Homo sapiens: one gene and its partner. The protein of the gene in region 1 purifies or fractionates together with the protein of each later gene. This does not show direct contact. Each region holds a gene or a part of one and is shown on either strand. Other genes may lie near its edges.

The links. The genes of interacting proteins can lie anywhere in the genome.
Region 2: the proteins of ADA (region 1) and POTEF purify together in Homo sapiens (affinity purification with mass spectrometry; 3 studies listed by BioGRID and IntAct, with this or other methods). This does not show direct contact.

What each region holds. Positions count from the first base shown.
Region 1 is NC_000020.11:44,641,678-44,648,710, forward strand, and holds part of ADA (adenosine deaminase), read right to left. Parts: intron 1-7,033.
Region 2 is NC_000002.12:130,119,218-130,126,250, forward strand, and holds part of POTEF (POTE ankyrin domain family member F), read right to left. Parts: intron 2,082-7,033; exon of another isoform or gene 1,392-2,081; 5' UTR 1,299-1,391; coding exon 778-1,298; intron 1-777.

The DNA.
Region 1 (7,033 bases):
TAGTCACGTCCGCTTGTGGGTGGGACTGGTGGGGGGAGGTCTGCATGGCTACTTCTGGCTAAAGTATTTATTCATTTATTTATTTGTTGTTGTTGTTTTTTTTTTTTTGAGATGGAGTCTGGCTCTGTTGCCCAGGCTGGAGTGCAGTGGCAAGATCTCAGCTCATTGCAGCCTCTGCCTCCCAGGTTCAAGGGATTCTCGTGCCTCAGCCTCCCAAGTAGCTGGGATTACAGGCGCCCACCACCATGCCCGGCTAATTTTTGTACTTTTAGTAGAGACAGGGTTTCACCATGTTGGCCAGGCTGGTTTTGAACTCCTGACCTCAGGTGATCCACCCACCTAGGCCTCCCAAAGTGTTATGATTACAGGCGTGAGCTGCCTTACCCTGCCTGGCAAAAGTATTTAAATGCCAATTCAAGAGCCCACCTCCCAGCTCTGCTTTACTCTGGCACAACAATTGGCAATGTTCAGAGTGGAATCTTCCCATCTGCCTGGGGCCCTGAGTGATCCAAGGAGCCGAAACCTCACTGGAGGCCCTGGAGGGACAAGCAGTATGAGGTCAACCTGGGTCTCTGCAGACCCCTCAGACCTGGGGGCTGTTTGTTACCACAGCAGCACAAGGTAGCCTCTCCTGCCTCAGAATGAGCAAACACACCTTTCTGAACTCAGCCTTGCAAACTGTGATAAGAAGCAGACCAAGTGCTATGAGATAAAGAAAAATCACACTGGGGTGGGGGCAATTTAGAAAGTGTGTTGGGAAAAGATCACTTAAAGGGGGAGTTCGCCAGGGAGAAGAAAGAAGGAGAGGGAGAATGGCTCCAGGCAGGGGAGCTGCGTGTGCTTAGTGTCTGAATCAGGAAGCAGGCGGGGAGTTGGCCAGAGTGCAGAGTGAGGTTAGTGGTGAGAAATGAGGCCAGGGCAAAGTGGAGAGGGGGCAGGGAGATTGCAGAGGCCGAAGCAAAGGGTTTTCCACCCAAGTGTGTTAAATCGGAGAGTCCCCTTTAAAAAAACCTTTCCCGGCTGCTGTGTGGAGGACAGGATGGCAGGAAGCCAGAACAGAAGACCAGCTACTGCGGGAGGGAAGATCTGATTGGGATTTGAATAACATGCGGGAAGTACTCAAGGCAGCGTCAGAGACAGTGGGTGCTCAGCGGGGCAGAAGCCAGACAGTGCCGGGGTGCAGAAGCTAGGGGTTCAGGGAGCTGGGCAGGAGGCAGGAGCGCCTCTGGGAAGGGGGAAAGCAGAGCCAGCTGCCCACCATGACCAGTAGCACTCATCCCTTCTCACGGCTGCCTGAGAAGAGGCCCAGACGCGTTTCAGGTGTGGAGCAGAGGCAGGAAGCCACCTCCACAGGTGGCTCAAGCTCAGGCAGGCCTCCTACTGAATTTTCTAGAAAACTGCAACACACCATGGGAAGTCTGTCAGCCTATTCCAGATGACAATGACAATGGGGTGGCGACCCCGCTCTCCTGTCTCCTTTCAGGGAAAAGGGTCAGCAGTGGCCTCAAACTTTTGAGTATCTACTATGTGCTAGACCATCTATATGCATTATCTTATTTCATCCTTACAACCAGCAAGGTAGAGACTTCACTCCCATTTTACTGATGAAGAAACTGAGGTTCAAAGAAGTACCCCAAAACAGTCAGTGATGGAGTCAGAATTTGAACCCTAGTCTGATTCTTGAGCTCCTAACCACTCTACTGTACTGCCTCTGTGGGCCTAGCCTCAGACATCAATAATACAGAAATAATAATAATGATAAAGCAGCTACCTACTGTTTTCAGACCCTTTATCTCATTTAATCCCTAGGCAATGTACATATCGGCCCATGTTACAGATGGGGAAATGGACTTGCCAGGCTAAGCCCGGAGAAGTTCAGTGGCCTGTCCAGAGTTACACAAAATTGATGGTGGTAGAGCTAGGGTGGAACTCAAGTCCCTCTGCCTCAGCCCAAGCCCTGCCCACAGGCCACACCCCCTCCCTGGCACTCATGTCGAGACAGTGCCTGGCCTCCTGACCTCTCCAGAGGGGAATCTCACGCCCCTTCCCACTGCCTTTGCTCTCTGCAAGGCTGACTCACAGCCAGCCCAGCATTTGTCTGAACAGCAGGAAATCCTCCCAGCGCTGATGTGAACAGGAAGCATCCTCAGTTACCAACAAATATTTACTAAGCCCCACTATGTGCCAGGCACCGTGGAGGCCCTCGGGAAATGCACTAAGTCCCTGCTCTCAAGAGATGCGTGCCAGAGAGGTCCAGGGCGGTGGGTTCACTTACCCAAGGTCACTCAGTGTGTCGGTGGCAGAGCTACCATGAGGACCCAGGTCTTGGACTCCTGGGACAGATACTCCCAGATCTGACTCATGTTTCCACGTTCCCAACTGCTGGAGGGCGAGCAGGGCCGTCTACCTCCAAGGCAAACCTAGTCAGATTAGTTCTCCCTGGTGAGCCTTGGGGACAACTAATCTGACTGGGTTTACCTTGGAGGTAGACGCCCTGCTCGCCTCCGGCAGTTGGGTTTGCCTCCCAAACACATCGCTCTGTTTTGTTTTCGTCTGACTTTTTGGGTTCATGTATGTAACATGTCTGTCTCCCTCATGAGCCGTTTGCTGAGAGGGGGGACCTTGTCTGTGTCATCATGTCGTGTCCTCAGCACCTCGCACAGCACCTAGTGCTCTCTGTGTTCAATGACCACACCGTTATTTCCTCGTTTCCCTGTCCCATGTCAGCAATGCTGGGTGCTCTCCCTGCAACAAGGAAGGGGCTGACCTGCCCCCATGGGACCTGGCAGAACCCACACGGGGGCAGAGGAGCCAGGGCTGCCTGGTCAGCTCACAGAACCTGAGCACCGTGGCCAGAACCCAGATGAGCCACAGGTGCCCACTGCCAATCGAATGTCCCCTCCCTCCCTAGCCCTGCTTTTGGTGATGAGCTGGGCAGTGCCAGGGTCAGTGACTTATGCCACTATGGCCTCTCAACTGACTTTTAGTGTGAGGCCAGGAGACAGAGCAGCCCTGGGCTGAGAAACTGTTTCAGCTCCACTTCCTCCAGGAAGCCCTCTATGCTCAGCCTCATCTAGGCTCCGCCAGCTCCGAGGTACACAGTGGAAGGGACTGAGCAGTCCCCACAGTGTCTCCTGCTGACGGGGCCTGACAGCTCTGCTGCTGAGAGGTTTCACAGAAGGCAAGATGTGTCTTCCACCTGGGGAAATTCCTGTGGAGCCACAGCATAGGGACTCAGCACACTTAAACTCGTTTTAAAGGCAACAAGACTGAGGCTCAGAGAGTGGGAGGACCTTGAGTTAGAAAGTCTAATGCATACCACAGCCAGGAAGCTATTTGACTCTAAACCCGGAGGTCTAGCAGCACGCTCCCTGCATGCCACATAGCAAGGTGCTGGGTCACTGATGCTAACATCTAAACAGGGGCCAGGTGCGGTGGCTCACTCTTGAAATCCCAGCACTTTGGGAGGCTGAGGTGGGTGGATCACTTGAGGCCAGGAGTTTGAGACCTCCTCTTCACAGAGGTGGAAGGGAGGACCAGCGGGGGCAAGTGTATCCCAAGTCCCAGCTACTTGGGAGGCTGAGGCAGGAGGATCGCATGAACCCAGGAGGCAGAGGTTGCAGTGAGCCAAAATCGTGCCACTGCACTCCAGCTTGGGTGACAGAGGAAGACTCCAGCTCAAAAAAAAAAAAAAAAAAAAAGTCACTGAAGTCACCTGGTACCCAGGACTACTTCAAGGACAGCCATTGTTATGGCCAACATGGTGAAACCCTGTCTCTACTAAAAACACAAAAATTAGCCAGGCATGGTGGCGCACACCTGTAATCCCAACTACTTGGGAGACTGAGGCAGAAGAATCACTTGAACCCGGGAGGCAGAGGTTGTAGTGAGCCGAGATTGCACCACTGCACTCCAGCCTGGGCGACAGAGTGAGACTCTGTCTCAAAAGTCAAAGTAGGACCATTACCAACCATGATGATGATGCTGACCAATGGCAGCTATTGCTGCAGCACCTGCTCTGAGCCAGGCCTGCACTTGGTGTTTGAGAGGTGGGTATGGGTATAATTCTCATTTTAGAGAGGGGAAACTGAGGCACCGTGAAGTTAAATGACTCATTCAAGCTCCTCTAGCTGGAAAGTGGGAAATCAGGACTCAGACCCAGAGAGCCTGACCCCAGCTGGTGTCCAAGTTCAAATTCCTTGCTGTTCTAGCTCCCTGGTCACTAGGAGTGCAGAGGTTATCCCCCACAACTGCTCAGGGGCCTGAGAACATTAAGGGCTGAGGGCAAGCCTACCCCCAACACCTTGGGTAAATACAGATTCCAACCTCACTCTGCGCCCACAGCCTGCTCCTCTCCACCTCCCCAGCCAGACCATGGTCCTACTACCTTGCCCCGCCCCAGGGGGTACCACAGGGACCCCTTCAAGACACCTGAGCAGGTGGACAAGTCTCTCCTGGATCACAGGGCCCCCAGCCACCCAGGTCAAGCCCACCCTGAGGTTGAATGCAGGATTGGGAAGCTGCCTGGCCTCCCCTGCCTCCCTGTGTGAACACAGACCACTTCCTCTCTCTGATCCTCCCTTCCTCCTCCGAAGCAAAAGGCTTCGATGAAACTCAGTCTCCTTTGTTCCCCTCCACCACCAACTGCCATGTGAGTCAAAATGGGTAAGGCAGGCTCTTCCTAGGCACATTTTTGTTTTAACAGGTGGCTCTGGTAACTGAAAGCCACTGCAAGCCCAAAGAAGTGCAGCTGGTGGGTTTTGTGTCAGGAAGACAAAAAGGAGGAGGGAGGAGGGAGATTCTGCAGCTGGAGAGGCCTCCCAGAGTCTACTGCAACCCCCACTCCAGTCCCCAGGAAGGAAACGCACCCCTGAGGGCCTGCTGTTACCAGCCAGGCACTGTACAAAAACCAATCAGCATGTCAGTTTCCCCAAGAACCCCAAGATCTTGGTTTTGTCACCCCATTTTACAGAGGGGGAAGCTGAGTTTCAGGAGTTGTCTACCTGAGGTACCCTAGCTGCTAAGCGGCAGGCAGGAATTCAACCCCAGTACATCTGAAGCCCAGGGCTAATGCACTGGCCCACCCTGCCACCCTGATTCTAACTCTTCCCCCCACACTGCCCCCTCTTTTTTGCATAAAGTGGAATTGGCAAATGAGCAAAGCAATGAACAGCTTCTACTTGAGTGCAGGCAGATCTGGGTTCAAGTCTAGCTCTGCTGCTTGCCAGCTGTGTGACTTTGGCAAGTTCCCTCCCCTCTCTGAGTCTCAGTTTCCTCATAATAAGTGAAGTTAATAATAGGACAGGACCTTCCTCAGAGGGCTGACATAAACATTAAATGAGTCACTGTATGCAAAGCAGGACAGCGCCTCGTGCAGAGTAGACATTCAAATATGAGACAGAAAAGGCACATTGCTGATTTAGCCCCAATTCCCCTCTGCATCAGAGAGGGACAGTTTAGAAACTGCTGTCCCTTGGCCGGGTGCGGTGGCTCATGCCTGTAATCCCGGCACTTTGGGAGGCTGAGGTGGGCGGATCACCTGAAGTCGGGAGTTCGAGACCAGCCTGGCCAACAAGGAGAAACCCCGTCTCTACTAAAAATACAAAAAATTAGCCGGGCATGGTGGTGCATGCCTGTAATTCCAGCTACTTGGGAGGCTGAGGCAGAAGAATCACTTGAACCTGGGAGGCGAAGGTTGCAGTGAGCCGAGGTCGTGCCATTGCACTCCAGCCTGGGCAACAAGAGCGAAACTCTGTCTAAAAAAAGAAAAAAAGAAAGAAACTGCTGTCCCAGCCTGTACCTGTTCACTTGCCAGTCTACAGCTTCAAGGCTCTCAGATTTTGTGTAGCCCTGGCAAGTCCCTCCACTCCCTAAGCTTCAGTTTCTTCATCTGTAAATGGGGATGAAGACCCATGCCTTGTCAAGTCGTCCAGAGGATTCCGTGAGATAAAAGTTACTAGCCGGGCACAGTGGCTCACACCTGTAATCCCAGCGCTTTGGGAAGCCAAGGTGGGAGGATCACCTGAGATCAGGAGTTCGAGACCAGCTGGCTAACGTGGTGAAACCCTGTCTCTACTAAAAATACAAAAATTAGCCGGGCGTGGTGGTGGACGCCTGTAATCCCAGCTACTCCGGAGGCTGAGGCAGAAGAATGGCTTGAACTCGGGAGGTGGAGGTTGTAGTGAGCCAGGATCACACCACTGCACTCCAGCCTGGGCAACAGAGTGAGACTGCGGCACACGCCTGTAGTCCCAGCTACTTGGGAGGCTGAGGCAGGAGGATCGCATGAACCCAGGAGGCAGAGGTTGCAGGGACCCAAAATCTTGCCACTGCACTCCAGCTTGGGCGACAGAGTGAGATTCTGGCAAAAAAGAAAAAGTCACTGAAGGCACCTGGTACCCAGGACTACTTCAAGGACAGCTATTGTTATGATTATTGTAACAGGCATGTGATCAGCACTGGCCTCCAGGATGCAGAATGCCTGAGTGCCTGGTGCCACCTGTGAACATAGGCTGATAAGGGCCACCCCTGCAACCCCCCTTTCCACTTCTTCCAGTGCCCAGCAGGTGCTAAGTCAAACCAGGTGGGGGTATGGGAGGCACACCCGACAGGGCAAACTTGACTTGGGCATCCCCTGACGATGACCCTGCATGGCAGGCACACTTGAATGGGTGTTCAGAGTTCTGAGCGAAGGAATCCAAGAGTGGCCAACCTGGAGATCCAGTCGTTATCTATGAGGAACATCTGAGCCCCACCCCATTCCCACGGGACACTGACCATACAGGGGTATAGGGACCGAGGCCCTTTGTTTTGGGTTAAATGAAGGTTACTAGGTGGAGATGGTTGGGAGAAGGTGTTAAATGAAAATGCTACATAAACTGCATGATTTGCAAGTGGTTGCGGTTCTTCTGCTCAGTCTGCCGCCACTGGACTCTCTTCCCTGTGTCTAAGCCCCCAGTAAAACCCCGTATCTTGTTTGCTACCTCTTCCAAAGAAGGTAGCCTCTTGAACCTGGTGCTATATCCATTGGAGT
Region 2 (7,033 bases), on another chromosome or scaffold:
CAGTGGCACTATCTCGGCTCACTGCAAGCTCCACCTCCCGGGTTCACGCCATTCTCCTGCCTCAGCCTCCTGAGTAGCCGGGACTACAGGCGTCTACCACCGCACCCGGCTAATTTTTTTTATATTTTTTAGTAGAGACAGGGTTTCACCGTGTTAGCCAGGATGGTCTCAATCTCCTGACCTCATGATCCGCCCGCCTCCCAAAGTGCTGGGATTACAGGCGTGAGCCACCGCGCCCAGCCAAAAAGCTCACATCTTAAGAAAATTCAATCTTCCTGTTCAAGCACAGGAACCATCTTCCCATTTCAGTTTCCTTCTAAGGTTCCTCAGTAAAGAACATATTTACATACTGTACATTGATATAAAATCCATACTGGATTTTATTTGAAGAATATTTAGCCCTGAAGTTGATGTGTTATGGGGCTTCGTTCTTAGTTCTCAATATACACTTTTCTATAATGTATAGAACATTGTTTTAAAATCTGTAGATTAAAAATAATCTGCTGCATTGACTTAATTAATTTTGCAAGTTAAATCACTTTAAAACAGTCTATTAGTGTTCTATGAGGGAAATTATGATTGGAAATCAGCTAAAGTTTTGTTTTTGTGTTGCTGTTCATAAAGGGCCCTGTACCCTGACCTCTCTGAGGTTTCCACATCCAGGGTGGTGTGAGGCCTGCGGAGGCGAGAAAGCCAGGTCCCCCTCCTCCCCCGCCAGGAGGGTATGTCCCCATCATCCCCCCACGTCCCACCTCCTCCCAGCCCAGGCCTGGTTACCTCTTTTGCTTGTCCTGCTTGTTCACGTCAGTGTCCCTGAGCATGACGATGAGATCCTTTCTGGGGACTTTACCCCACCAGGCAGCTCTGTGGAGCTTGTCCAGATCTTCTCCACGGACGTGGTACCTGGGCTCCATGAAGGCACTGTCATCGTAGTCTCCCCAAGCGCCCACCTTGCTCTTGCTGCTCCCCCTGCAGCAGGGGAAGCAGTGGCAGCACCACTTGCCCATCTTGTTCCTGAGTGTCTTCATAGCAGAGTCGTCGTGGTCTCCAGAAGCGCCCACGTTGCTCTTGCCACTCCCCCTGCAGCAGGGGAAGCAGTGGCGGCACCACTTGCCCATCTTGCTCCTGAGTGTCTTCATAGCAGAGTCGTCGTGGTCTCCAGAAGTGCCCACGTTGCTCTTGCCGCTCTCCCTGCAGCAGGGGAAGCAACGGCAGCACCACTTGCCCATCTTGCTCCTGAGACCAAATGGCTTCTTCACAGAAGAGGCAGCCGGCATGGAATCAACCTCAACCACCATCTGCTTTTAACAGCCAGGAGAAGCCAGTAGTAGCCAACAGATCGCGTCTACCAACCAGTTTCACCAACTAGCAGGTAACTCCGGGTTTCCAATCTGTTTGAAGAGAAAAGTCAATCCCAGCCAAAACCTGCCAACCCCAGCAGGGGATTCCAGCCCAGCCCACCCCACCCAGGGAAAACCCACACCCACCCGAGGAAAGCCCACGCCCCCCCTGGGCGACCCCACGCCCACCCCAGAAAGGGCCAACCCCCGCCCCCAAGAAAACACCCAGCCCACCCAAGGGAATGCCAAACCCAGCAGAGAAAAGGTCAAGCCCAGCAAAGGAACACGAGAGAGAAAACGTCAATCCAAGCAGGAAACGTCAATCCAAGCTACCAACGCCAAGCCAAGCCAAGAACGCAAAGCCAAGCCAAGCCGCTACAGGCCAGCCAAGCCGTTAAAGCGCGTGCAGCATGCGCGTGCAAGCCATTACAGGCCAGCCAAGCCGTTACGCGCGTGCGGCGTGCGCGTGCAAGCCGTTACAGGCCGGCCAAACCGTTATGCGCGTGCGGCGTGCGCGTGCAAGCCGTTACAAGCCAGCCAAGCTGCTGCCGGGCGTGTGCGCGCGGCGTGCGCGTGCGCGTGCGGCGTGCTTATCTCAGGTGGCGTCAGGGCACGTGGCACAGACACTGGCCGATGCATGCAACGCGCCTGCTTAAGTCTTGGCGCCACGAATGTCACTGACAGCCTTGAGTTCCGGCAAACTTCGTGGGAGTCAGCTGAGCTTTCAAGCCACTGAGAAGCCTCTGGTGAAAAAAAAAAAGCCTCTTAAAGGAGGACTGGGGCTAAGCGTCTGGAACTTGAGGATGCTGACAGCCTCCTTTGAAAAAAGCCCCCAGGACACTCCTGGCGGTGCTGTTGTGCATGGCAGCAGCTGCAGCTGGGAGCTCGGGCTGACGGAGCTGGCTGCAAATGGCCTCAAAATCGCGGAGCACAAGACGCCCACCGAGCCCAGGGCCTGCCTGAGGTGCCTTCAACACCTGCTCCTCTTTGCTCCGCACCCAGAACACGAGGCCATCAGCAAGGGGGCATTTGGGGCCACAGGATTGCAGCCAGCTCCTGCCCCGGTGCAGTGTATACAGTGTATACTGCACAGGTGTTGGGTGCACCAAAATCTCCTGAATCACCTCTAAAGAACTTACTCATATAATCAAACACCACCTTTTCCCCAAAACCCTAGGAAATAAAATGAAGAACTTTTTGTTTATGCATACCACATATTTTTTAACTTTTTTCACAGGTTCATTGAGATACAATTTATATATTATTTAATTCACTCATTTAAAGTATAAAATTCAGTTTTTTAAGTGTATTAACTAGTTAAACAATCACCATGATTTTAGAACATTTTTATGCTCCTTAAAAGAAACTTTGCACCCATTAGCAATCTTTCCCTATTTTCCCCATTCTTCCTTTAAACCTCTCCCAGCCCTAGGCAATCATCCATCTATTACCTAAGAATTTGCCTATTCTGGAAGGATTTGCCTATTCTGGACATTTCATGTAAGTGGAATCATAATAATATAGTTACGTGTGACTTACTACTTTCATTTATCATGTTTTCAATGTTCATCCTTTTTGGAGCATGTATTAATATGTTTTTCTTTTTCATTGCCAAGTAATATTTTATTTTATGGACAGACCACATTTTATTAATCCACTCCAAAATTCATGGACATTTCTGTTGTTTCCTACTTTTTGTTGCTATAAATACTTTTATGTGTAAGGCATTTGTTTTAATTTATTTTTGGTGTATACATAGGAGTGAATTTACTGAGTCATGTGGTAATTCTGTATTTAACCTTTGAAGAACGGCTTCATTTTTCTGCATGTGGCTTGCCAATTATACCAGCAGCATATGTTGAATAGGGTGTCCTTTCCCATTTTCTTGTTTGCTTTGTCAAAGATTAGGTAGTCTGATGCCTCCAGGTTTGTTCTTTTTGCTAAAGATTGCTTTCGTTTTTCAGCATCTTTTGTGGTTCCATTCAGATTTTAGGACTAATTTTTCTATTTCTGTGAAGAATGACATTGGAATTTGACAGCGGTTGCATTTAATCTGTAGAATGCTTTGAGTAGCATTGAAATTTTGACAATATTAATTTTTTCAATTGATATAGGACTTTTTCTATTTGTCACTTTCAATTTCTTTCATCAATGTGCTATAATTTTCAGTATACAAATCGTTCACATCCTTCATTAAAATTACTCCTTGCTCTTTGATTTACTTATATATTTGTTTTGTTGCTATTATAAATGGAATTACCTTATTTTTCAGATAACAGTTTGTCATTGGTGTATAGAAGCCAATGTTAATTTTGTAACTCTCAACTTTATTGAATATAGTGTTTATCAGCTGTAATGGGTTTTTTGTGGAGTCTAAAACACAGACAATCTCACCCCTTCCCTTCCTATTTAGATGCCTTTCCTTTCTTTGCCTTGTATAATTACTCTGGCAAGTCAGTTACATATAACGTTCTCAGCATTTGTAATTTGACATCAAATCCATCTGTTGTAATACACTGATTGTTACTTTTCAACTCGAAAACATGGACATTTATCACTACTCTCCCTTTCTCTTGGTCTAGTTGTTATTTAAAAAAAAACCTATCAATGCAAACCAGGATATTTTTCTACAAAACAATTTCAAACACACTAAAAGGTTTTAATCTAACAATTTTTAAACTTTCTTTGTCAATGACTTTGAACTGTGGTCTCTCGGAACAAATCCAACACCTTTAGTAGAAAAATTATGTTAATTCCTACATTATCATTGGGTCTAGCCAAGAGTTGACCAAAGGTGATATTAACAGATATGCTTATTTATTACCTTGTTCTCAAAGTTCTAGCATAAGTCTTGAAAAATCTAGTAAAAATTTGTAAAGACTATAATTGCACAAACTCCCTCTCTCATGAGTCACACAGTTAATCCAGAATACTATTTCTAAGTTATTGGAAAGCCAACAAGTAAATATGATGTAGTGTATAAAAATAATCCTAATTTCATTGTATATTCTGTAAGTGACATATGCAATTGATACTATTTACTAAATATCTCATAATTATATTTATTTACATAGAAAAAAGGAATAAAAAACATATCTATTATCTAACATTTAAATGATTAAAAATACTTGAGATAGCATTGCTACATAAATGCTATGTAAATGCTGAAGAAAGTAAAAATGTCATTCCCTACATTTGCTAAATATATTGTGACACATTATAAGCATTTTTAAAATATATCACTAATGGTTGGGTCAAGTCAGCAAAAATGATTCTAAGTATTTAATTGTGGAAAAATTTAGTACAGGGGATAGTATTCATGTGATGGAAGGATTTTAAATGGAACCCAGAGATTAGCAGCAGCAGTAAGTTTTAATTGCATACCAGGTGCAGAGTCTAGGATACAAGACAGAACTGCAGATAAAATCTGACTCCTTCCAGCATAGCTAGGAGACATGGCTAACTCCACCTGTCCGGAGACCTTACCTAGAAATCTAACGGCTCCAAACCAGGTAAACAAAACTATTTTCCAAAGTCAAAGCATCAATTTATGACATTAAAGCACTTCTAAAACTTAACCTCTGACTTAAGTTAGACCAAATGGATAAATTTTGAAGATATTTTTATTTTACCACTGACTTTAACACCATCTTTATTTCCCAAAGATTACTGAAGTCACATGAAATAAAAGGCATTAGAGCTTCTATTTTTCTTACAAAATATTTAAGAGCTTTCATTTTCTTTTAAGCCGAGCCATTATATATACATCACATACACAACACTTCTAGACAAGAAAAGATCTAGCAGTTGTTCAGTTTTTCTTTCCCACTTTATGAATCATAACACAACTTCCACAGACTATCTACAACATGATTAAATTTATCTGACCTGTCCTGTATTTCCCTCTTTTGTAATTAGTCATTCTACTTTAGGACAACAATTTGCCATATAAGATCCTCTCTCATATAACATTTCTTTCCTTCATAACATTTCTTACAATAAATACATCTTCATATCCACAATTTTCTTTAGATCTCTCTCCCCTACTAATTTCTGATGCCCATCCAAACCAAAAAGGTCAGACAACGCAAGGCAAAACAGAGCAGAGCCTTAGATTTTTGAGAGGGACCTGTCTGCTTAAAGTTCTTGGGGTTCCATGAGGAAAACAGAGGTTTCTCCTAAAATGGGGTTTGTGGAACCTTCTGTTTTTCCTTAAGGAGTCCCAGGTTGTCAGAAATTACCTTAGATCCTCTCATGTGGGCATCAAGAGTGGCAACAAGAGAGACTGGGGTAATAATTCAGACAACTGAGCAGAAAAAGAAAAACTTACTACTGTCCCCACTGTAATGATGGATAAACTGAGGCACCATGCAGTTCAAAAATTCATGTTCACATAATTAGGATCCACAGCTCACTCTCTTAAATAATTTTGCCACCTCTATGCCCAGTCACTGATGCACCTGTATGGTAGCTCATGGCCCCCTTGGAACTTAGAACCTGGGTTTCATTCCTGCTCTACGGCTATATAATTCAACAATTTTCCTTTGAATTTGTTGGACTCTAACCCTGTATATCTCAAATTTTATTAGTATTACTGAATCTTAAAGGGAGCTGTGACGTCTTTAGTCTTTAGAAATATTAAACCTATAAACAAGGACTATATGAGGTTAAACAGTATTCAAATTTCTATATGCTTTAAAACATGGACACAATGTATTGAGAAACACACCTACAAAACTGCACCCCATCAACTCTGGACAAAAATTTAGATATTATCTCTTCAATATAACCTATCTAGTGGTATTTATACATATTCTTCCATGTATCAACGGTATATTACATGCTCATAACCTTAAAAATAACAAGTGTTCAAATTATAGGCCTTACACATTTCTACGGGCTTGAAAAATGATACAATATAGATTGTCTTTAAAGCAGTCAAGAAAATGCATAAACTTCTAGAGGAATCAGTAAAATAAAGATAAAAAGTTCACACCTAAAGTAGTAATACTAGGAATAAAAGAGGGCTCGACACTGCAGGTTCTTAGATACAAAAGTTAATAAAGCCTTGTTTTTGGTTGTGAATCTTTGCCTTAAAATACACACAGCTGACCGAGGTGGGTGGATCACCTGAGGTCAGGTGTTCTAGGCCAGCCTGGCCAACAGGGTGAAACCCCATCTCTACTAAAAATACAAAAAGTAGCCGGGCGTGGTGGCAGGCACCTATAATCCCAGCTACTCAGGGGGCCAAGGCAGGAGAACTGCTTTCACCCAGGAGGCAGGGGTTGCAGTGAGCCAAGATCGGGCCATCGTACTACAGCCTGGGGGACAAGAGCGAGACTTCATCTCAAAAAAAAAAAAAATTACACACAATTCTCCCGACTTCCTTTTTCTCTTGCAAAGAGGTGGTGATGAACCAGGTTTGCTCAGGCAGATGACAATACTCTTGAAAATGGTGGCAGAGAGCCAGGCGTGGTGGCTCACACCTCCAATCCCAGCACTTTGGGAAGCTGAGACAGGTGGATCACTTGAAGTCGGGAGTTCAAGACCAGCCTGACCAACATAGAGAAAACCCATCTCTATTAAAAACACAAAGTTAGCTGGGCATGGTGGCACATGCCTGCAATCCCAGTTACTCAGGAGGCTGAGGCAGGAGACTTGCTTGAACCCAGGAAGCGGAGGTTGCAGTGAGC